Homo sapiens: one gene and its partners. The protein of the gene in region 3 purifies or fractionates together with the protein of the main gene of each other region. This does not show direct contact. Each region holds a gene or a part of one and is shown on either strand. Other genes may lie near its edges. The genes, in order: SRPX, GFPT2, KCTD13, SMTN and BTBD9.

Region 1 (4,958 bases), on a different chromosome or scaffold from region 3:
ATCCTATACTAAAACTTATACCGTGGAGCTTAGCGGATTGGGGAGAGACAAAAATATGCATCTGGTCAAACTCCAGGTCACATTCCTAAAGATTCTGATTTTATTAGTGTGAGGTAGAGCCTGGATATGGTATTTTCATGAAGCTCCCCAGGTGACCCACATAAACAAGGTTGAGAATGACTCCCTGGAAAGTCTGGTCTGATGGAGGCCACAGAATAGACTGACCTCCCCCATTTCCTTGCGACTAGGGGGTTATTTAAGGGTTGTTGGTTCCCTGAAGAGGTAGCAGCAGTGGAGAAACCCACAGGAGATGGAGCGAAGTCCCCCCAAGTGCTAGAGAGGGTAAGATGGACGTTCAAGTCTGGGGCTTTTGTGAGAATTGGGAAATGGCACTCCTTCTGGATAAACAAATTCAGAACTTCTAGGTGAGTGCCCCCAGGGCTCTTAGCCTAGCTATCAGACCAGACTACTGTGGCAGAGAGAAAGATGCCCTTCTAGTGGATGTGGCCCCTGCCAAGACGCAAAGCTCCCTGAACCCAAAGGCATTTGGATTTTGGCTCCCACTTGCCCCTTCCTCTGGATGCCTTTGTACAGTGCCCAAACTGCACAACCTAATGCAGCAACTCCAACTAAAATTTGCCTTAGCTAAGATCTTTCTGAGACAGCAAAGGGGCAACGTATTGCCTTACTGATTTAACAAGAACTAAACAACCAAAACAACAAACAAACAAACAAAACTATGAGAGGCTTACTCAAATGCCTCAAAGAAACCAGATCCGTCCTGCGGGCAGCCTAGAAACCCTGTCCTGATGCCAGGATCCAGCGATGCCAAGCCACAGGGAAGAGGCTCCAGTCTGGTCGTGGTATCTTTGGGGTGGTTGAGAACAACCCAGGAAATGAGGAAATCTGGCTGCAGGAACCTACAGCTGGATCCCCATGGCTGTGGGTGAGACAGAGAACTTTCTGTGCCTTGTGCTCTCCCATCAGCTGATCCTGGAAGGAGAACCTCAAGCCCCATCCTAAACCGCAGCAGAGCAGGCACGCACCCGGTCCAGTCCTTGATTTATTCCTTTGCAAAAGAGAAACAAACTAACAAAAAATCTGTAGTATGGACTTTGACGTCGGCAGAACTACACACCTAAGTTCCAGTCCCTGCTCTGCCAGTAACGGGGGTGAATCTGGGCAAGTTTCTAAGCGTCGGTGTCTTATTGGAGAAAGTGGACATGGTAATAGCGAACTTGGGGCATGGTCGTGAGGATCAAAACAGAGAACATGGCCATAGTATCCGGCCGCAGTGGGCCACTCTGAATCCCCTCGGTTGCCCCTTCTGTTTCCGTGTGACTCACGCAGCTTTCTGCACAGATGGTATCCTTCTAGACGTCTGGGATGTTCGAGGCGGTTGTATTGAATACCGTGTGTGTATTCCGGGTGAGGGGGCGCGCAAATTGGGGCAAAGAAAGCTACTTCAGGATATTTCGCTCTGCTGGGGCTTGTCTCCAGCGCTCTCTGGCCAGAAAAAGCGCTGGCACAAAAGGAGGAGGTGGGTGGGTCAGAGCCCCGAACCGCGCAGTGTTCCAGGGGGGGCGGAGAAAGGAGGGCAGGCCCCAGGCAGGAAGGAGGGAGGGAAAGAGGCGAGAGGAGGAGTTTTCCAGCCCGGCCTTCGCCCGCCCGCTAGCACGCAGTCCCTTGGTCTCTTCGGTCTCCTGCCGCCCCCGGGAAGCGCGCTGCGCTGCCGAGGCGAGCTAAGCGCCCGCTCGCCATGGGGAGCCCCGCACATCGGCCCGCGCTGCTGCTGCTGCTGCCGCCTCTGCTGCTGCTGCTGCTGCTGCGCGTCCCGCCCAGCCGCAGCTTCCCAGGTAGGATCGGAGGCGTGGCTGCCTCCTCAGCTGGGCACCAAAGACCCCCGGAGTCGCCGTTGGGACCCTTCGCTCGGGATAGAGGGAGGTGCCGGGGGCGCCCTTTGTTTGCGCAGAACTCCTCTTTCGCAGCCCGAGGGTGGGGATGATGCGGATCGGGGCTGGTGTCTGGGCACGCGCCGGGAAGAACTGACCATCCCATCTCCAGGCGCGGGGCGCCCTCGCGGCGACGGGAGCCCTAGCACCTTCTGCGTCCGGGCTTCCAGAGTTCCAATCAAACCCTTTTCGGTGTAGGAGGCTCCACAGAGAAAGTTTGGCCGCAGACTAGTTTGCTACTTTCTCACCCCCAGAATTTTGCCTCTCACATGGTTGCCCACTGGAGGCTGGCAGCTTGTCCTGGAAGGAGCCTCTATGCCCTCCCACTACACGTCCCAGGCTACCCCCTTGGGGCCGCAGGACACGAGCCACGGTAAAGCGACTTTTGTGGAAGGCACGGGCGGGGCCTCCCCTGAATCTCTTAACCCCCCCTGCTGGGGATTCCGAGAAAGTCTGCGCCTCTGAGGAAGAATTGCCAGCTGAGAGTGGTGACATGTGGCATGCACTTGATTAGCCCCAGGGAAAGAGGGCTACTCGCGCAAGGATCTGCTGGGCAGAGGGTGCGGCTTATTCCTGGAGGGCGTGGTCTCCGGCATCTAAGGGGGCCCTGGTGTTTCTTGGGGGCTCTCATGGTGTGAGCAAAATTCTCTTTGGAGATGCACTTTAAAAAGCTCCAGCTAACTTCCTCACCCTGGAGTCTTAGGTTAGCGAAGAGCTTCAGGGGAGTAGGGCAATGTGCCATGCACTCCTGTTGCCTCGGAATGGAGAGGAAATCCATGGATGCGTTTTAATTTAGTGTTAATGGGAAAGTGGGTGACGTCGGCTATAGGGCGTGCAAATATTTGGCTCTGCGTTCAACACCGTGGGCAGCTTAAATCTAGGGTATGAGAAATGAACCTACTGAGTTCTGGTAGAAGGATAGAGGATGCCCATCTTTCTAGCAGTGTGCTTGGGAGATGTAGGGATGGCTGCGGGAAATTCTCTGCACGCACCTAAATAAATGAATGAATAGAACAAATTTGTAAATTAATAAACAGGAACATTTGTGTTTTGAGCTGACTCTTAAGTTTTAAGCTGCTTTGTAGGAACTGATTCAGGGTAAAGTGGAAAGGAAATTTTATCCTTACTGCCAGGCAACTGTTATTCCCATGGTGTGTTAATACCTCCTCTCCCACCCCCTTTAGCAGGAATCAGGTTAAAATGAACCTGTAGGGGAAGAGGAAGTCATTAAGCGTCCCAGAAGCAGCTTTCTGGGAGCGGGCAAATAAGGTGAGAAGCTAGAGGTAGCTTTTCCGCACTGAGTTGGGAGGTGCCTGTGAGCTGCCTGGGAACCTCAACTTTTAGTTGAGCCTTTCTCAAGCTGGGGACCCCTTCTCCTTTTCCATCCGACCTCCCTCCGTTCTCCTCCCCTGCCCTCCCCTCTCCTTTCTCTCATCTTCCACCTTTATATAGTACAGCTTGCTACCAGGGCCCAGCCACAGAATCATGAGTTCGCCAGTTTGGGCATTCACTACCACCTGTCTTTTGGGACCTATCCCTGGCTTTCCTGGCTCCCTCTGCCAGCCTGCAAGCTGCTCCCAACTTTTAGCCACCATGTTCCTGCTTGCCACCACCTCCACTGACTCCTAACCTGCCCTCCGGCTCTGCTCAGACCACAAATGAGCTGAAGCTGATTGGAGCTGCTTGATAAACACTCCTCTTGAGCCTCCTTTTGGCATGGCTCAATGGGGTCTCTTGGGAAGTGTGCTCCGCTGAGGTTGTGAGATCCAGAGGAGGGGATTTCAGTCCAAGCCAGAGGCTTTGGAAGGCTGGGGAGGGGAAAATCTCTAGGCCCTTGGGTCTGAAAGCAAATCACATAGGCTGAGTTCACTCTAAGTGCTGGGTGACAAATTTTAAAGATCATTTCAGAGACACTCTCTTAGCAAGTGGACATCATATCTTCAGTAAGAGAGAAAGTGAAGGACTTGAATCTGGAACTTCTGAAAGAAGATGGAGATCTAGGGCTCCATCAGCAAGTCGATTATGTAACTATCTGCACGTGAATAGCACATCTGTCAGAGTGAGAGTAAATCATTCTCATTCCCACTCCTAGAAGGTCTCTGGAGTTCTTCCATCTTAGAATTTAATGCAGCTTTTCTGGCTCTCTGATCTATTTTTTGCAGCCTAGCAAAGATGCAGTGTCTATAAAAACCTACATGAAGTGTATGGAAAATTTGTAGAAAAGTTGTTTGTGTTTGACTGTGTTTGTATGCTTATAACAGATGAGAATTTAGATTCTGTTCTTAAAATAATTCTTAGAGCTGTATTTGCATGTGAGATAGTGGTGGTTCACTCTGCCTCCTTCTGCAAACAAGGCTGAAGATGGAGAATGAGTACCATGGCCTCTAAGAAAGGCTTCGTGAATCTTACATCTGGAGAAAACTGGTAAAGTAGCGTGGTTTTACTAGTCAGGAAAACCAAGTGAGGTTTGCTAAAAGCCAAACCAGACTACATCAGCTGAAGCAGTCTTTTGAAATACCACATTTGGAGATAAGTACTAGGAATGGAGCACCTAGCTCAGGTTATATAATTAAGGTGTCACCGGGAACAGGCTAGGAATTCCTATTTAGATTTAAAACATGTAATCAGCTGACAAAAGTACTCTGCAATGAAAAGGAAATATGCTGGGGAGAGCAGGTCATTTTCCTCTGGCATTTTCTTCATTGATAACACTTTCAGTACAGTACAATGTTGTTTGTTAGTTACTACTCATTTCGCAGATTTGGGAGCTGAATGAGACACCAGAAACCATTGTTAAAGCAGCGTCTTCACATCTTCCCACCTCATCAGTCCTCGTACCATAACCAAAGTGCTGCTTTTCTCTTTTAGATTATTGCTATAACATTCTCACTTTTGGTCTCTCTAATTCTAGCTCATTTTACTTTCTCACTTTAGATAATGGTCTTTTAAGTCCATTGACTTTAGTACTGTTTTTTATCACATCACTCCCTTACTCAAAAACTTAGG
Region 2 (4,297 bases), on a different chromosome or scaffold from region 3:
AAGTGCACTTTAGCTCAACACACGGTAGGGCCTGGGTTCAAATCCTGGCTCCACCCCTGCACTGGGCTCTCCCTTTAGCCTTCTTGGCGCCTCGTTCTCCTCATCGGTGAAGGAAGTGAGAACAGCGCCACCTGGCGGGGCTTCCGTGACGATGATAAGCTAATGCACTGAGCCTGGCATCCGGAGACCCAAGAGAAGCACAGGTTGTCATGACCGTTACTGCTATTATCCTTTCCATGGATACGACTGCCACCTGCCCTCTGGGCCTCAGCTGGTTGGTTTGTGCAAAGCCAGAACTAGAATCCAGCTCTCCTAACACAAGAGGCCAGATGGTTTTTTGACTTAAATTCTTGGTGTAAATTCTTCCCCCACGTCCTGACCATCCTGTACTAACTTACCGCAACCCTAGCAGAGCTCAGTTATATATAACCAGCTGCAAATCTGAATTTCCACAAGAAATCCTCCAAGTGTGGAAGCCACGGGCAGCCCCAGGCCCCGGGTGGTCAGCGTGTCGGGTCCAGGTTGCCAACTCAGCTACAGGGCCAGGAACCTGAGTCACCGTCCCCAGGCCTCATTGGGGCTTTCAAACTGCCCCAAACCAGGGGGCTTCAGGCAGACCCTGGTGCTTTTGTCAACAATAAAATAGGACTGAATGGAAAAACACTGCACGTTCTCTGCCAAAAAGAGCCCGGTACTGTCCCAGGTAGGAAAAGTCTTAAGTTTAAAAGTGTCATTATGAGAGAGGTATTTCTGAAATTTCAAAATAAAAATGGAAAAGAAGAAACAGCATGCTGTAATACCTAATTGGCTCACTGTACCTTATCCAGCACATTAAATGTGGGATAGGCTGTTTTTTATAAACACGTCCTCTAAATGATGGACCTCCAAAAACGGGAGTTAGAGGACAAAAAGGCTTCAACAGTAGACTTACTTTTTAAATCAGACTCTGAAAACACCTGCTCAAGAATGATGTATTTTACACTACAGGATGGTGCCTGCCAGATGTTCTGGACTCTGGGCCAGTGTCCAGGCTGCCACAGCCCTGGGGGAGCTACTGGGTGGCACTGCTGTCTGACAGGATGGGCTCTGAGAGGCCCGGACCCCTCTCGTCCTCCCGCACCCTGCATGGGCCTGTGTCTGCTCCACCTCCTCCTCAGTGTAGGGGCCTCCCCTTGGACAATACGCCCAGTGTGTGCTCCCTTCTCAGGGACTTCTTCTCCCTGGGCCCTGTCCTCTGGGATGTCCCCAATCTCTCTCCCTCTCTCCCTCTTTTGGGCCATTCCGTTCCACATACAGACATGCTGTGATATCACCTATCACAAAAACAGGCCAGGCACAGTGGCTCACGCCTGTAAATCCCAGCATTTTGGGAGGCCAAGGCAGGTGGATCACTTAAAGTCAGGAGTTCGAGACCAGCCTGGTCAACATAGTGAAACCCTGTCTCTACTAAAAGTACAAAAATTAGCCAGGTGTGGTGGTGCGTGCCTGTAGTCTCAGCTAACTCAGGAGGCTGAGGCAGGAGGACTGCCTGAACCTGGGAGGTGGAGGTTGCAGTGAGCCAAGATCACACCACTGCACTCCAGCCTGTGCAACAGAGTGAGACTCTGTCTCAAAAAAGAAAAACCTAGAAACACATCCTCGCTTGGTACCACAACTCTCTCTGCACACCACCACCAAGCTCACGTGTGCATCATAAAAAGCCACGGACTCTAATGCCAGTCACAATTTCAGAAGTGTCACGATGAAGCAGGGCACTTTCTATTTGATGTTGACTACCCAAACCACAGAACGTCTTCCAGTTCTACAAGAGTGTAACATCTTAAGGCCAGGCTCTGCAGATGGGCTGTCTTTTATCCCCAGGACTCTGTGCAAGTTTGTCTAACAAGGGCTTATAAAAAATGAAGGATTCCTTGGCACTTGCTGCTTGAAAAAAATGTTTTTAATGAAAGAATGAAGGAATGAGTTAGACAGATGGGATTTGTAACTCACCAACTGCTGAATGACTCTCTCGACCAACGTTGAAAACGTAATGTCCTCAGTTTCTCTGTTGTCGAACACATATTTAATCAGCTTGGCGATGGTCTCTGTATCTGTTTCTGACTCAAACTCGTAGCCTTTGCTTTCCTGGAATATGCAGTCGGCACAGTGTGAGAGATTGGTCATTGCACAATGCCTGCCTGGCCAACTCCCTCTCCTCCCTGGTGATCTGCCCTTGGAGTGACTTAAGTCAAGAACAGGGAAAACCGGGAAGGGGGGAAAAATGTTTGCCAGCATCACAGCCAAATACCTCTGAGTCACTCCCGGAGGCCCTGAGATCATCCCACCTCAGAAGCTCACCCTTGCCACTAATCTGGACATTGCAAAATAACAGCAGTCAAAATGATAAAATACGTTGAGTCAAACCCACCCACATCCCAACTAACACCACAGAGCCTTTCAAACTTCAGACAGTCACTGTCTGACTTTCCGTCCCAACTCCGCCGGTATACGAGTCGCTGTGTTATATAATGCAGACAGTTTAATAAAACGAAGCTCCTGTTATTTTGATTCTGGGAATCTGCAGTGGCCCTTGAGATAAACACTAATGCCCTGTTATCTCCTCAAACGAGATCTGCAGGGCCTGGCTCAGCCAAGGCAGAGGTTTCTTCTCAACACGGTGACGTGGCTGAGTGTGGGTCTCACTCAGTTCCCACACTGGTTTCCGCAAGGAAATGAGCTGGCTGGAAAGTTTCTGGGGAGACCAATCCCACCGGACTGAGACATCACCTAGGGGAAGCATCTTACCAGAAATTTCCTCAGATCTTTGTAATTTGTGATGATCCCATTGTGGATGACAACAAATTCTGAAAGAAAAGTTAAGAGAGAAATGCTATTGAGAAGGAGGTTCATGTCAGATGTGAAGAGAGATGATTTCAAGGCTTGAGAACTCTCTGCAAACTCCAGGCCTCAAGACTTCTGTTAAGCACACTTTGTTTACAGTGATTAGCACAGATGTTTACGGCAGCAACTACAGTGGAACCAGGGATTAGCACCAGGGATGTCTAGGGCAGCGGCTACTACAATGGGATCCGGAGGAAATACACATCCCTCTTTCAGTGACCAGCAGCCACCAGCCTGACCGTGCAGAGAGCTCTCCCCTGTGCGCTATTATAGTATCAAACAGGCTTTGGGGTTCATGTCCCACGGGGATGATGAGCCCTTCGTTCCAGAAGTGATTCCAGGCACTCTCAACTGGCTTTAGGCACAAAGAGGTCGCAAAGAACAGTCCAGCACCGTGCTGTGTTTGACCCACACTGTGTTGTAAAAATATTTGAGTTTTTAAAATTCTGAGTGTTCACTTTAAAATCCTGGTTTCCTTGGGGGAAAAATCCCAGAAGTTCTGGCATCCCCAGGCTCAGCCACATTCCTGCACAGCAGGATCTGCCAGCTGCAGCTTTTCCCACCTCCCCAGTTCCTGCCGCACAACCCAGCTCACGCGGGCGGCTTCCTGCACAGGTAGCACCCCGCTGATCCTGGCGGGGAGGTGGCGGGGGGGCGGGGGGAGCAGGGGGATGCGGGGGATGCGGTGAGGGATGTCTGCCTCCACCCCACTGCATTTTCTCAATGAATAGCCCGCATATGAGTGCCTTGAGGGAAAGATCCAAGGCCAGCCTGAGAATTTTTCTGGGCAAGTAGCTCCGTTTCCCTCTCCCCCTAGAGGACAGAAAGATTCCCTATTACCCTTGAGGTTCAATAATTCCACCAGGAGGTGTCTAGATGTGGGATACGCTTCATAAATATTGACTATTTTTTTCAAAGCATCACTGTGAAGTCTTATTTGTTTTTATTATTACCATTATTATTTTGAGACAGAATCTCACTCTGTTGCCCAGGCTGGAGTGCAGTGGCGTGACCTTGGCTCACCACGACTGCTGCCTCCCGGGTTCAAGCGATTCTCCTGCCTCAGCCTCCCAAGTAGCTGGAATTGCAGGTGCTCGCCACCACACCCGGCTAATTTTTGTATTTTTTTAGTAGAGACAGGGTTTCACCATGTTAGCCAGGCTGGTCTCGAACTCCTGACCTCAGGCGATCCACCCACCTTGGCCTCCCAAAGTGCTGGGATTATAGGCTTGAGCCACTGTGCCTGGTCTATTGACTATTTTTGATCCCTTCTTTGGATATCCAACTCAAGTTTTCCTTCAGTTCGGGAAAGATTTCTCCCACAGCATCTTTTGAAATCTTTTCCATTATTCTTTTTCTTTATTCTCACCATGATTTCCTCTATTTAAAAAAATTGTAGTGTTTGTTTTTGTGAGGT
Region 3 (4,297 bases):
TTCCTATCTTCCCAATCAGAGGATGTTTCTTGGAAGCTGGGTCACTGATTCATTCATTCATTCATTCAATAAATGTTTCCTAGCTTCCACTGTGTGAAAAGGGCCCAGCTAATGGGAGATAGGAAAGAAAAAGACATGGCCCTGCCCTCAAGGAACTAACACCTCGCTGCTGATGCAAACCCCCTCCCCTCCACCACACATGATAAAACACTGTCTTTAGCTATGAAGGGAGTGTGACCAACTTTGGGGTTGCTGGATTGAAAGTTCATGAGTGAAGGTGACCCAAAGAAAGTGATGCTTAGCTTGAGTCTTAAGATTAAGTACAAGTTCATTAGGCAGATAGAAGGAAAGAATTCCAAGAGGCAACAGTGTGTGCAGAGGTAAGAGGTAAGAAATAGCACTGAGTGCTTAGAGACTTGTGATGACTGTGGTGTACCTGAGGCATGTGGCTCATAGTAAGCTCGGAAGGGACCAGATGAGGAAGGGCTTGTATTTTGCTCAGCACTTCATTCCCCTTGATTTCCAGCCCGGTACAGTACTTAGCACAGAGCAGGGGCTTGGGGAATATCTTGATGATTGCCACATTAATGACTCAGGATCTACAAACTCAGAGGATGTTCTAAGAGACATCTGATTCTGAGGTTTTAAGAATCTATTTTTGGCAATGGGCCTTTCTGAGTTTCCCTTTTTTTTTTTTTTAATTAGAGTTAGGGCTCACTCTGTCTCCTAGGATGGAGTGCAGTGGCATGATCATAGCTCCCTGCTGCCTCAAATTCCTGGGCTAGGGCGGGCCCGGTGGCTCACACCTATAATCCAAGCACTTTGGGAGGCCGAGGAGGGCAGATCACTTGAGGTCAGGGGTTCAATACCAGCCTGACCAACATGGCGAAGTCTCTACTAAAGAGACTTCTCTACTACATTTAGTCTCTACTAAAAAATACAAAAATTAGCCGGGCATGGAGGCGGGTGCCTGTAGTGCCAGCTACTTGGGAGGCTGAGGCAGGAGAATCACTTGAATCTGGGAGGCAGAGGTTAAGTGAGCTGAGATCACACCATTGCACTGCAGCTTGGGCAACAGAGTGAGACTCTGTCTAAAAAAAAAAAAAAAAAAATAGGCTGGGGGCAGTGGCTCACGCTTGTAATCCCAGCACTTTGGGAGGCTGAGGTGGGTGGATCACGAGGTCAAGAGATTGAGACCATCCTGGCCAACATGGTGAAACCCCGTTTCTACTAAAAATACAAAAATTAGCTGGGCATGGTGGCACGTGCCTGTAGTCCTAGCTACTGGGGAGGCTGAGGCAGAAGAATCGCTTGAACCTGGGAGGTAGAGGTTGCGGTGAGCGGAGATTGTGCCACTGCACTACAGCCTGGTGACACAACGAGACTCCATCTCAAATAATAATAATAATAATAATAAATAAATAAATTACTGGGCTCAAGCAATCCTCCTGCCTTAGCTTCCTGAGTAGCTGGGATTACAGGTGCATGCCATCATGTCACCAAGCCACCACACCTGGCTAAATTTTTTGACTTCTTACAGAGATCAGGTCCCACGATGTTGCCCAGGCTGGTCTCGAACTCCTGGGCTCAAGTGATCCTCCTGCCTTGGCCTCCCAGAGTCCTGGGGTTACAGGCGTAAGCCACTATGCCTCACCCCTTCTGAGTTTCTAATGGCAACTATGGACCCCCTATACAGAAAAATGCATACACCCCCATTTCAGGAGTTGCAAACAGCCTTGAAACCCATCCAACAGGCCTAGGCTAAGCACCCTGCTCTAACCCGTGACCCCCATTTCACAGAGAAACAGAGACCCACAGGGATAGGGTGGCTTGCCCACTGTTGTGCACCCCAGACCCCAGGATCTGGCTCCTGCCTCCTGGTGGTGGGCTCCTTCCCCTGCCAACCTGCTTTTGTCCAGGGTCCTGGTCCTGGCCACCCCCAGCCCCCAACATAGGCTCTGGAGCCCCTCTGACCTTGGTCTGCTTCTTCTCCGTAGCATAGACAATGGAGGTGCAGCACACCTCGGCGATTTTGCGGCCCTGCCCGTAGAAAGACCAGCAGCAGATCTCGTCCCCCAGGACATCCTTGAGGAAGAGTAGCCGCCCGTGGAAGCGCAGGGCCAGCTTGTCGAACAGCTCGATGTTCTTAAGTAGGTTGTCATCTGAAGTGCTGGGGACCAGGGGACCAGGAGGCCTCAGCGCAGTTGGCACCCCTCCCTCTGTACCCCCAGAAGACGGGCCTGGATGCATTCCCAGTCCTCTGCTCCTGCCCAGGGCTTTGGTGCTCAACAGAGAGCCTCCTCCACCCCTGGGGCCAGGCTAAACGGGTCTCAGAAGGGAAGCCACATGCGCTGAGCAAATCCCAGCACAGCACAGCACAGCAGCTCCAGTGAGGGACCGGGAGCCAGGCCACCTCCCCGGGGGTCCTGGTGTCCCCATTTTTTAACTGGGTGACACTAGGCAAGTTACTTCACCTCTTGGTGTCCCGACCTCCTCATCTGTAAAATGGAGCTCACAACAGTACTGACCTCAAGGGGGAGGACTCTGCCAGTTCCTAGAATGAGAGCACTTGGGATAGGCTCGCCACTATCACTTTGTCCTCACCCAAACCCATTTACTGATGACTGAGCTGAAGCTGAGAAGCAGAAAGGACCTGCCTAGAGCGTCAGGGGTAAGAGGCGAAGCCGAATCTGCGAGCAGGCACAGATGTTCTTGTAGGCCCCCCGTGTGGCCGTGGCCCTCGCCTTGGGCAGAAGCAGGGCTGTGCTGCATCCCAGGGTCCCGCCCAGTGCCCCGCACCCCGGCGGTCACCTGGTGTAGGAGTACTTGTTGTTACTGCGGTTGTGCAGGAGCTTCACCACGGGCTGGCGGGGGAGAGAGGATGGACGAGAGGGGTGAGGCTGCAGGGAGAGGCCCCCCCAGTGAGCCTCCACCCTGCAGGGCTTGGGGGCCTCACCTTGGAGGTGCTGGCCAGGAGCTGCTGCTCCTCCCGGGGAGATGTCACCATGGGGATGAGGCACAGCGGGGACAGCGTCTCCCTTTTTTGCTGGGGAAGAAGCGGAAGGTGGTTAACAGCACAACCAAAGGCCACGTACTCCCCCACTTAAAAGCCTTCAAAAGCTGGTTGGGAACAACTCCAGACTCCTCAGTGGTCCGCAGGGCTCTGCAGGCTCCAAGCTCCGCCAGCCTCTCTGCCACTCTCCCTTTGCTTGCTGGGCCTTGGTCCCACGGACACCTTGCTGCTTCACACATCCAGCTTGTGCCTGCCCCGGCCACTGGCTGTGCCCCTGCCCGGGATGCTTCTTTGCTCAGCTGTCAGCGTGGCGTGTCCGTCATGCCATTCAGATCGCAGGTCACACAGTGCCTCCTCAGGGCCAGCCCTCCCCAGCCCCCCTGGCTAAAACAGCCTCCTCTACATCCTGCCTTTTGTGTTATCAGTTTTCTTTTTCTTTTTTTGAGACAGAGTTTCGCTTGTTGCCCAGGCTGGAGTGCAATGGCGCCATCTCGGCTCACTGCAACCTCCACCTCCCGGGTTAAAGCAATTCTCCTGCCTCAGCCTCCTGAGTAGCTGGGATTACAGGCATGTGCCACCACACCCAGCTAATTTTGTATTTTTAGTAGAGACGAGGTTTCTCCATGTTGGTCAGGCTGGTCATGAACTCCCGAACTCAGGTGATCAGCCCGCCTCAGCCTCCCAAAGTGCTGGGATTACAGGCGTGAGCCACTGCACCAGGCCTATCAGTTCATTTTCTACACAGCAGTTAGTGTCTGACTTTTTCTAACTTTTTGTATTTGTTTATGATCTGTCTCTTCCCACCTAGGAATAACTACCTAGTATACAGCTGATGCTCTGTATTTGTTGAATGAATGAACATATTTGTTGAGTGAATGAACTTCATTGGGTGGGATGACGTTGGAGAAAGAAATCTGAAGCAAACCCATGGGCTTCTTTCTCTTCTGTCTTCTAGAATCTTCATGCCAAAATCCCTCTCACTTCTCCCAACCTTGAAAACTCAATGCGCAATTCTAATACAAATTCCAGATTTGTTTTTTGCAGAAACTCATAAGACTCTCTAAAATTAACAGAGAATAATAAAAGTCTACAATTACTGAGGCCATTTTTTTTTTTTTTTTTTTTTTGAGACAGGGTCTTGCTGTCATCCAGGCTGAGTGCAGTGGCATGACCACAGCTTACAGCAGCCTTGACCTCCTGGGCTCAAGCCATCCTCCCAAACTTAGGTCAGTTTTTAAAAATAAGAGCAAAGAGGAAAGGCCGACCCTGCCAGATATTAAGATA
Region 4 (4,297 bases), on a different chromosome or scaffold from region 3:
ACTCATCCCCATTGGGGAGGCAGTGGGGGGCGCCTACCTGCCCTCTGGTTGCCTGTGGGCAGCAGCACCCGGCCTGTGGAGGCCTGGCCACGGCCGTCCTTGATCTCGATGGTGAATGTGGTCTTCATACTGCCCCCTGGCTCGGCAGTGCCGACGGCCACGGGCAGCGGGGCACCAGGCTCCTCTGAACGTGCCACAGGCCCCCCTGCTCTGTTTTCAAGGGGCCTAGCAGCCAAGCCCCGCCCCCTGGGGCCCTCCTCCTGGGGGCAGCTTCGAAGCTGGGCCAGGGGCTGGGCTACTCCTCGTTGCTCCTTGCTGAACCGGGAGGAGGTATCACTGGGGCCCCGAGAGGAGGAGCCGCTGGAGGAGGAGGCAGGGGTGGTGCTGGTGAGGGAGGGGCCCAGGAGCCTTGCGGGGGTCAGGGGACTTAGGGCAGCCTGGGGTGTGCCATCCTGGAGCCTAGCAGCCATAGGAGAATCAGATGTGAACTTGTGGACACGATCCCGCACAGAGCCAGCCCGCTGGAATGAGGAAGGTCCGCTGGCAAGGGGGGTGGACTCTAGAAGGAACAGGAGGGCTGTCAGCAACTGGGTGGGACAGGGTCTGCACAGATCCTAGGCAGGGTGAGAATAGGTAGTACCTCGGTTCTGGGCTGGTTGGCGGGGGCTGAGCACCGACAGGGAGCGTTGGCAGGGTCGGGGTCCAGCCACGTCTGGCAGGTTGGGGAGGGGGTGATGGCCATGTGGGGAAAGAGAAAAGACAGGGGATAGTGGGTGTCCACCTTTCATAATCCTCTCCTCTACACCTCCCTAGCTTCCCACCCTTTCCTGTACTCAACCCCCACCCCACCTCTCCATCCCCTCCTGGATCTCCCACACTCCGGCATCCCCACTCGGCTGCATCTCTCCTACAGGCACCTCCTTCTCCTGCCACACTGACCCTAGGATGACTTGGACACTCCTGGGGGCCAGGCGAGGCTTAGGCTGGAGGAAGGGTGCCCAGATCCTTTCTGCAGATGGGGAGGGGGGACAGCCCTCCTGGCCAGTGCTGCCCACAGCTCCAGCTGGGAGATGGGTGGACTCCCTTATTGGGGAGAAGAATGTGCCTGAGGCCCGTTGCCTTTCAAGGCTGCAGGGGAGGCCTCTAGCCATGGGGGTGGAGGGGGAGGCTGGCCTAGCTGGGGGCGGGGACACTTCAGGGGTGGGGTGCAGTATCAGGGACTGCATGGACCTGAGGAAGCTAGAGCTGCCAGGCACAAGAGCCCATTTTCTAGGCAGGGAAAGGGAGGCAGGGGGAGGGGAAGAAAGATGCCTGTGACTACCCCTGCTGGGACCCTCACCTGCTCTCTTGGTGTCAGAGGGGCCTCTGGTGGGGCTCTGGGCAGCAGGGGTCTCTTTGGGGCCAGACAGAAGCTGCAAGGGAGAAGAACAGGGCCTGAGCAAGGCCTGACTCCCAGACCTGCTCACTTGCCTGGCATCCCTGCCCCTCATCCAGACTCACCTTGTTGACCACCTGGCCCTCAGTGCTGGGGAGCGTTGGAGACTCCTGAGGCTCAGGGCTGGTGGTCTTGGGTGGGCTGGGGGGTGGCTCTGGGCTGCCTGGAACCTCAGCTGTAAGGCACTGGGCCTCGGCAGGCTCCAATGGAGGCTCAGGAGAGGCAGGGGTGGGTGAACTGCTGGGTGAGGCAGGTGAGCTGGATGTGCTCCCAGGTGGGGCTCGCAGCAGGAGTGTCACTGTGGTCACATCCTGGCTGGTGCCTTCAGGGGTGGGGGTTGGCTTTGAAACCTCTGCCTGCTGTTCCTGTTCCTCTCGCTCTGGCACCTGTAAGGGACCCACAGGATGCAACCAAGGCTCCCTAGGCTTTGAACGCCACCCCCACCACTGAGGGCCAGGCTGGCAAGTGCCCAGGGCAGGGCATGCAAAGCAGAGTGGTGGGGCATGGCTTCCTGTAGGCACACCTGCGCAAGCACTGGCACTGGCATGCTAAGGGCAGTCTCTGATCCCCACTTCCCAATCTCTTGGCACTACCTAGCCAAAGGGGTTCAGAGAGGACCAGGTCCTGATGTCAGTGGGTGGGTATGGCAGGAGACCTATTGGGGACGGGAGCCTTAATAGATCCCTGGAGTGGAGGTTCCTGACTCCTGGCCTCAGCCTGGTTCATCTGGAGTGGGAGTGGGGTCCTGCCAGGACCGTGGACCCAGCGGCCTCTGCTGGCCACTTGGGGAACCTGCATGGCCTGACCTCTCACCCACACTCTGGAAAATAGAGTGAACTGTGAGCCAGCTGGGGTCTGACATGCAGGCCCCATAAGCCAAGGTAAAGATGTGGGCTGTGTGGAGGGTGAGGGGCAGCCCTGGGACGGGTTGAAGCAGGGGAGGTGCCAGGGCCGGATTTGCATTTCTGGGAGATCCCTCTGACTGCTAAATAGAGGCTGGATGGCAGGGGTGGGCCCCTTACAGTGAAATACCAGCCTAGCAAAGACACTCAGGCACTCTGTGCTACCGGTATCCATGGGCACAGGACACTGGGCCACTCTCCCACCCTCCTTACCTCACACTGTTCCAGCCTGTGTGCCGCTAGCCCCTTGCTGTCCTCTCTTGAGCCACTGTTGGGACGCCCGCTGTACAACCTCCCAGCCAAGGTGGCAGCTGGAAGGGAAGGAGCAAGTGGCAGGTGAGTGACAGGGAGGTGCTGTGGACAGCAGACAGCAGGGCAGGGGTGGGGCCGGGACAGGCCACATACCCTCAATCTCCTGAGCCCGTACACGGCGGATGGCAGCTCGGATCAGCTTGCGCTCCTCATACTCACCAGCGCTTCGCAACTGTGGGTAAGAGACAGGTCGCGGGTGTTGGGCTGTGGAGTCCAGGTCTTCACCTGCCCTGCCCCCATCCCCTGCCCCAGCCTGGGCCTCACCAGTGCAGTCAATTCCTCCACATCGTTCATGGACTCCAGCTGCCCTGCCAGCCGTGCCAGGGCAGCCCGCTGCTCAGCTTCCCGCTGCTGAGAGCTGCAGAGACATCATGACTGTAACCACCACTGCCATGGCCAGGTCGTGGAGGATGTGGGCTAAGGGTAGGAGCCAGAACAGAGTACCCAGAACCTTGGCAGAAGGGCATGTGGCTGTGCACACCCTCTAACTGCACACTGATACACATATGCCCATGGACGTGGGCACTAATACCACACACTCAGACGTGCTGGCTACATCAGCACGGCCGCGACGCCACAATCAGTACATGCTCCATGCCCACAAACATCTCTGTTTTTCCAGAAGCGTGTGTGGACGTACTGCCATTAGCACATGCAATCCACAGATACACTTGTGCTCACGCCTGCCTGCACACATGAGCTGAGCCAGGGCTCACACTCACCTTCTCACCCGCATGTTCCACCCCCCGCTACTCACTGCAGCCAGTTCTCCTTGTTGTCCTGCCGCTCGGCACGGAAACGCTTGGATGCCAGGGCCTCCTCCTCGCGCTCCAGCTCCTGCCGCTGCAGTTCCCGGATGGCTGAGCGGATGCGCCGCCGCTCTGCCAGATCTGCTGTGACCTCCAGCTGCAGTGGGTGCGAGAGGCAGGTCATTTTGGCTGCCAGGGGCGGAGGGCTGGCACCAGCTGCCCACGGCTCTGCCTAGGGCACAATGTGTGGCCTGTGTCCACTCCCTGTGTCCCAAGCTCTTCACGTGCCTGCCTGCCCACGCAGGGTCCCGGGGGTAGACCCAGCCCACTGTTTCAGGGATCTTGGGTAGTCCACTTTGCATTGTGGTTCACAGAGCACACAACTGTGAGTGGACAGCCAGAAACTGCCCACTTGTGCCAGGTGCCAAGCCAGGCACTCCTTTCTACAACTCGATTCCTGCCTCTCAGAGCCCAGATCCCCAAAAGTCAGGGAGCTATTGTAGGAGGAGGAGGGAGGCCACCCTGTGGGTCACTAACAGGGTCCCTAGAGGGAAAGGTGACAGATGAAGTCCACCCTCTGAGCAAGGGAGGCTCCCTGGTCTAGTCACCAAACACCACAGCCCAGCTGGGGGTTGACTGCTTCATCCACAGATGGGGAAACTGAGGACAGGTGCTCAGGAGTCCTGCCTGGCTGAGGGCTATTGTCCCCACTGCACTGGCCTGGACCTAGCCACCATGGAAGAAGCCAGGGTGCAGAGTGGGAGGACCAATCCCCCAGACATATAAGGTGGCTGGCACTAGGGGCCACCCCAGGGCCTTATAGAGGGCATCCCTGGGTGACAGCTGCTTCTACCGGTTCTCAACCCCTCAGTTCCCGGGAAATTGGGGGTGACTGGTCT
Region 5 (4,790 bases), on a different chromosome or scaffold from region 3:
CCATGCAATAAGAAGTGATTAGGCCCTCATGAATGGATGAATGCCATTATAGCAGGAATGGGTTCATTATCTCAGGAATGGGTTCTTGAGATGAGTTCAGCCCTCTCCCCTCTCTTGCCCACAAGAAACAACTCAAGATATTTCCAAAAGCGCTATTTAATTTTAATATTCAGCAACTTTGCTTATGCTGGCCCCTGGAATGCTCTCTTCCACCTCTACATGTGGCGAAATTTTATTTAACCCTCAGAGCTAAGCTCCATCCCCTTCTTCTCAACATGTTCCCTATCAGTTTTTTCTCCAGCCAAAGCACTCTACTCCCCCAGCACATTATTCATTCCAAAAGTGATTAATTTGTCACAGCACATAATGGTTAGTGGTTTATCTCTTCTGATGAACACTTAGTATGCTGAGCATATACTGTGTCTTAACTTCTTTGTCTTCCCAGCACCCAACGAAGTGTCTCGCCATAGCCAGCACCCAGTAAGTATCTGCTGAGTTGTTAAATAATGCAACATTTGCAGTTGTAACTTTACACATCTTGGTTAGCAATTCAACTTCAGGTTTACATACCACTCAAAAGAATTTTCACATAACAGAAGATGTTATAAATAAAGACCAAGGGTTCAATATTCAGCAGCAGGGTCTTTAATTATTCTGAAATCTCTTTGGTCAGTATTTTTAAGCATCGTTCATCAGAAAGACTCCTTTCCCAACTAACATTTGTATATTTTACAGGATCAGCAGTAAAGACAAACCTCAGAGAGATAATCCCAAGCAAAACTATGTCACTGAGTGTGACTGGATGACTATTGGTACATCATTTCAGTAAATTTCCAATACAATGGCCCAAGTACATCAGGTAGATTTTAGATAATGAGACATGCACCACTGACTACCTAAAATACATGCACATTAGTGAGGCATCGATTCCAATTAGTAATTGAAATCAAAAGTATATTAACAACCTGATATTGGTTCAAGCGTAATATCCTTTACTTTCAAGTAAGGATAACACTTATTCTTGTCAAAGACTGTACTCTGATTAATACAACCTCTATCCCACCTTACAAGAAGGCTGTATCTTGTTAACAGTGGGATGCTGATAAGCCCGCCTTAATCCTTAACACTTTGCCTTCCCAACCTGCTAAGCCATCTCTCTCCAGTATTCCCCTATAAGAGACGTTCCGCTCCAGTTACCAGACATAAAAGTCGTCTTGGTATATCCTCCAACAACCAAATTCACATTATTATTTTCTCAGCTCCTGGTTTATTTCCTAACAAATTTTAACTTCTTTCAGAGACCAAGTCAAATCTTGCCTCTTTCAAAGAGTTCCCTAACTCAGCCTACACATCCTATCTTTTCTGATTTTCTACCACATTTATAGTCCTCAAACAGCACTGGTTACCTGCTACTTAACTTGGTTTTATAATTATTTTATACATCTCCTAGCTAGACTACTGCTCTCAAAGGGAAAAAAAAGACAGGTCTTCTATGTCATTTTTCACTCCATAATCCTCCTCCCACACCTATCATGATACTGGGCAGAGGGAGGCACATGTATTAAGTACTTGATGGACTGAACTCAATGCTTTCTATACATAGATACACCACTTGAGCATAGTGTGCTATATAACAAATATCCATTGCATGCCTACTCTGTGGCAAGCACATTTTTCCTATGTGTTAGACATAGGGCAAGGAGGAAAACACAGATGACTCCTGTCCTAAAAGCTATTACAGTGGAGGGAGGAAGACACTTTGAATTCCGAGTAATCTAATAAGTGTTACAAAGCAAGGTTATTACTGGTTCCAAGAGGTAACATACTTTACAGATTCTCAGTTATGAAACAGAATCATAGAATTTTAGACCTAAATGAGAACCTTGAACTTATTTTCCTCTATCCTCTTACACAAAACATTAGATTTCAGTACAGCCTATCTTTTCACTGGTTCTACAAATTGCCTTAATCAACAGAAAGAAAAGACTGGCTTCTTCCCTGTCTCCAATATTCCTCGCTCCCAAGTATGGTAACCACAACCCCTATACATCTACCCATGATAGAGTCCAGAGCACTGAGAAGACAGCACAGGGCTGAGGATGAGCTACACCTTTACATGCTGGGTTCTCCCATCATCAACACTTTCCGCCCACACAGTGAACAGAATCCGTATTTTCTGCCCAGAAAATAGCAGCCTGTACTGCCTTTAGGAAAAACAAACAAAACATGCTTCCATACTTCCTTGGATCTACTAATGACAAAAGCACAACACGGTTCTGGGAAATATAGCAAGATAACTAAGTCTATGAGGAAGTAAGAAATGAGGATGCCTATCAGCACCTTGGTCTCAAAATCTGTAACAACAATGTACTAAAACGCCAAGGAAACACATGCACATACATGTGAAGTTAGAAACTCTAGGCAACAGGTTGGCTGCCCCGGATCTATACTGACAGGTCGCCCTCCCAAGGTCGTGGGTGTGTCTGATGCCGCACGCAGGCACTGATTCACAACTCTCTCCATAACAACCAGCTCCTACTCAGAGGCTGGCCAGGGCAGGGGAGATGAGGGCCCCAGCAGTCCCAAACTTTCCAAACCCCCACCCCGGGGTCCCGGGTTTCGCCTCCTCAGTCCCAGGCAACGTCGTCTCAGACAGGATACGAGACTGCTAGGGAACCTGGGCTGCCCCTGATTCGAACTCCTCTCTTTGGGAGGCTGGTAGAGCCACCCCGAATCCCCGAAACGTCTACTTCCCACTACACCTTCGTGGACTGCGAACGGGACGGCTACCGCTCTCCCAGAGCACCCGGGCCCAAGAAATGACCCTCGTCAGGCCCCGTCCCAGCTCCTCCCCCGCCCCCGGAAAAAGCGGCGGAGGGGCGGGGGGCGGTGCGCGCGGATACGGCGGGGGCGCGCGTCCCCGCGCCGCAGGTGCGGCCAGGCCCCACCTCCCCTGCAAGGACCCGGCTACTCACCCCAGCGATGCTCCTCTGAGACCAAGCTGCGACACAGACGCCTCTTCCGCCCGCTCCGCACCCCTCTCTGCGCCACCGCCCCCTTGGCCGCTTCCGTGGCCGCCGTCCTCGCCGCCGCCCCGGCTGCTGCGGCGCGCGTCCGCTTTCACGCACTCCGCCGTGGCCGCGCACGCGCCACTGCGCGCTGGCGTCACTTAGCAACCGATCGACAGCGGGCTGCTGGGTCCGGCGATGCAGGCCCAGAAAGTCGCCTAAGGCAGCTTCCGCGGCTTTTTCGCATCGGCCCGACCCTCTGCCCCTCCAGAACAGGGGGCCCCAGGGTGTGGCTGCCCTGCCGGCACCTGGCTCCGGGTAAGTCGAGTCACCACACGTCACTGTATGGCGTCACCGGCGCACGTCACTACGGATGAGAAGGTCCTGGGCGCCTGTGGAGTGACCTCGTCCAGACCGCCGCAGACCCGATCGGCAAGTTCTTGGAGGTGCAGGAAGGTTCTCCAAGGAGTAGGACCAGAAAGGGATGAGAGCGCGAGCGCGGTTAATGTCGAGGCTGCTAAGTGATGCTCGTTAATTTCGCAGCAGGGTGTGACTGGCCCAGCCTTGACTCTCAGTTTCCTCTCTCAGTAAATGGGCATAATAATACCGGTCCAGCCTACGCTGGAGAATTGTGAGGTGAAAATGAAATAAGGTATGCAAAGGTACTTTGTAAGTATAAAGCCCATTTGACTTGGTGGCTCAAGCCTGTAATCCCAGCACTTTGGGAGGCCGAGGTGGGCGGATCGCTTGAGCTCAGGAGTTCGACACCAGCCTGGGTAACATAGTGAAACCCCGTCTCTACAAAAAAGACAAAAACTAAATGGGCATGTTGGCGCGCGCCTGTAGTCACAAATGCTCGGGGGGCTGAGGTGGGAGGATCGCTTGAACCTGGGGAGTTCAAGATTGCAGTGAACCGTGATCGCGCCGCTGCACTCCAGCCTCTGCAGTGAGAGCAAGACACTGTCTCAAAAAAATGTATTTATCTATCTACATAGATAAGAGTCCTAGAAATCCGGGTGCAGGTCTGACTGTAGCTGGTGTAGGAAAGTCAGTTATCCCCGACGCTGGAGCAAGCTAGGGGACCGCCCTTGCAGTTGTTGGAGGAGACAAATTGGGAAGGACTTAATTCCGGGCAAAGGAAGCTTCATGAGTAAAAGTAGAAAGTGAAAATGGTCAGGAAAAGCAAGGCTTGGGGCAGGGAGACCCATTTTTAGGCCATTGCAGTACTCCAGACAAGTGATAAGAACATTAAACAAGGCATTGGCAGTGGGAATAGAGGAGGGGATAGATGTTAGCGCCATTAAGGTGGTAGAATTCACAGCACTGAGTGCGGATAAATGAGTAGGCCAGGTTTCTAGCATGAGTGCTGAGGTAGACAGTGGTAACATTTAGCAAGATGGCAAGCTACATGAGTCTTGATTATCCACAAGTGTCTAAGTTACTATTATAGATAGTGATGGTGACATTTCTTAGGAGGATGACCAGATATGTGGAGTATGATGATGAGTTCAAATATGGATATGTTTGTTAGGGAAACATTTACTCTCCATTCACAATGTCTTTCTTCCATATGGAATGATATCCATTAGTGTAATACTCTCCTGGTTTCTCTTATACCTGTCTGCAACTCACTCTTGCCTAGAGGAGTGACTTCCTGATTGGTGAACTTAAATGGGAGAAACTGGACATGTGGCATCTATCCCATTCTTTTTCTCTTAAAAGATAACTATCTTCAGGGAACTGTCCTGGTGTTCTTTTCCGTTTCTTCTGGAGCAGGGCCTG

The links.
Region 1: the proteins of KCTD13 (region 3) and SRPX purify together in Homo sapiens (affinity purification with mass spectrometry; one large-scale study listed by BioGRID and IntAct). This does not show direct contact.
Region 2: the proteins of KCTD13 (region 3) and GFPT2 purify together in Homo sapiens (affinity purification with mass spectrometry; one large-scale study listed by BioGRID and IntAct). This does not show direct contact.
Region 4: the proteins of KCTD13 (region 3) and SMTN purify together in Homo sapiens (co-immunoprecipitation; one large-scale study listed by IntAct). This does not show direct contact.
Region 5: the proteins of KCTD13 (region 3) and BTBD9 purify together in Homo sapiens (affinity purification with mass spectrometry; one large-scale study listed by BioGRID and IntAct). This does not show direct contact.

What each region holds. Positions count from the first base shown.
Region 1 is NC_000023.11:38,217,594-38,222,551, reverse strand, and holds the start of SRPX (sushi repeat-containing protein SRPX isoform 1 precursor), read left to right. Parts: upstream 1-1,680; 5' UTR 1,681-1,759; coding exon 1,760-1,856; intron 1,857-4,958. UniProt on the Homo sapiens protein: May be involved in phagocytosis during disk shedding, cell adhesion to cells other than the pigment epithelium or signal transduction.
Region 2 is NC_000005.10:180,328,711-180,333,007, forward strand, and holds part of GFPT2 (glutamine--fructose-6-phosphate aminotransferase [isomerizing] 2), read right to left. Parts: intron 2,844-4,297; coding exon 2,785-2,843; intron 2,125-2,784; coding exon 1,990-2,124; intron 1-1,989. UniProt on the Homo sapiens protein: Controls the flux of glucose into the hexosamine pathway. Most likely involved in regulating the availability of precursors for N- and O-linked glycosylation of proteins.
Region 3 is NC_000016.10:29,909,004-29,913,300, forward strand, and holds part of KCTD13 (BTB/POZ domain-containing adapter for CUL3-mediated RhoA degradation protein 1), read right to left. Parts: intron 3,047-4,297; coding exon 2,957-3,046; intron 2,865-2,956; coding exon 2,812-2,864; exon of another isoform or gene 2,658-2,811; intron 2,555-2,657; exon of another isoform or gene 2,171-2,554; coding exon 1,975-2,170; intron 1-1,974. UniProt on the Homo sapiens protein: Substrate-specific adapter of a BCR (BTB-CUL3-RBX1) E3 ubiquitin-protein ligase complex required for synaptic transmission.
Region 4 is NC_000022.11:31,087,223-31,091,519, reverse strand, and holds part of SMTN (smoothelin), read right to left. Parts: intron 3,556-4,297; coding exon 3,407-3,555; intron 3,067-3,406; exon of another isoform or gene 3,008-3,066; coding exon 2,914-3,007; intron 2,822-2,913; coding exon 2,743-2,821; intron 2,649-2,742; coding exon 2,551-2,648; intron 1,822-2,550; coding exon 1,501-1,821; intron 1,413-1,500; coding exon 1,340-1,412; intron 1,084-1,339; exon of another isoform or gene 940-1,083; intron 713-939; coding exon 641-712; intron 560-640; coding exon 38-559; intron 1-37. UniProt on the Homo sapiens protein: Structural protein of the cytoskeleton.
Region 5 is NC_000006.12:38,636,825-38,641,614, forward strand, and holds the start of BTBD9 (BTB/POZ domain-containing protein 9), read right to left. Parts: upstream 3,106-4,790; 5' UTR 2,976-3,105; intron 1-2,975.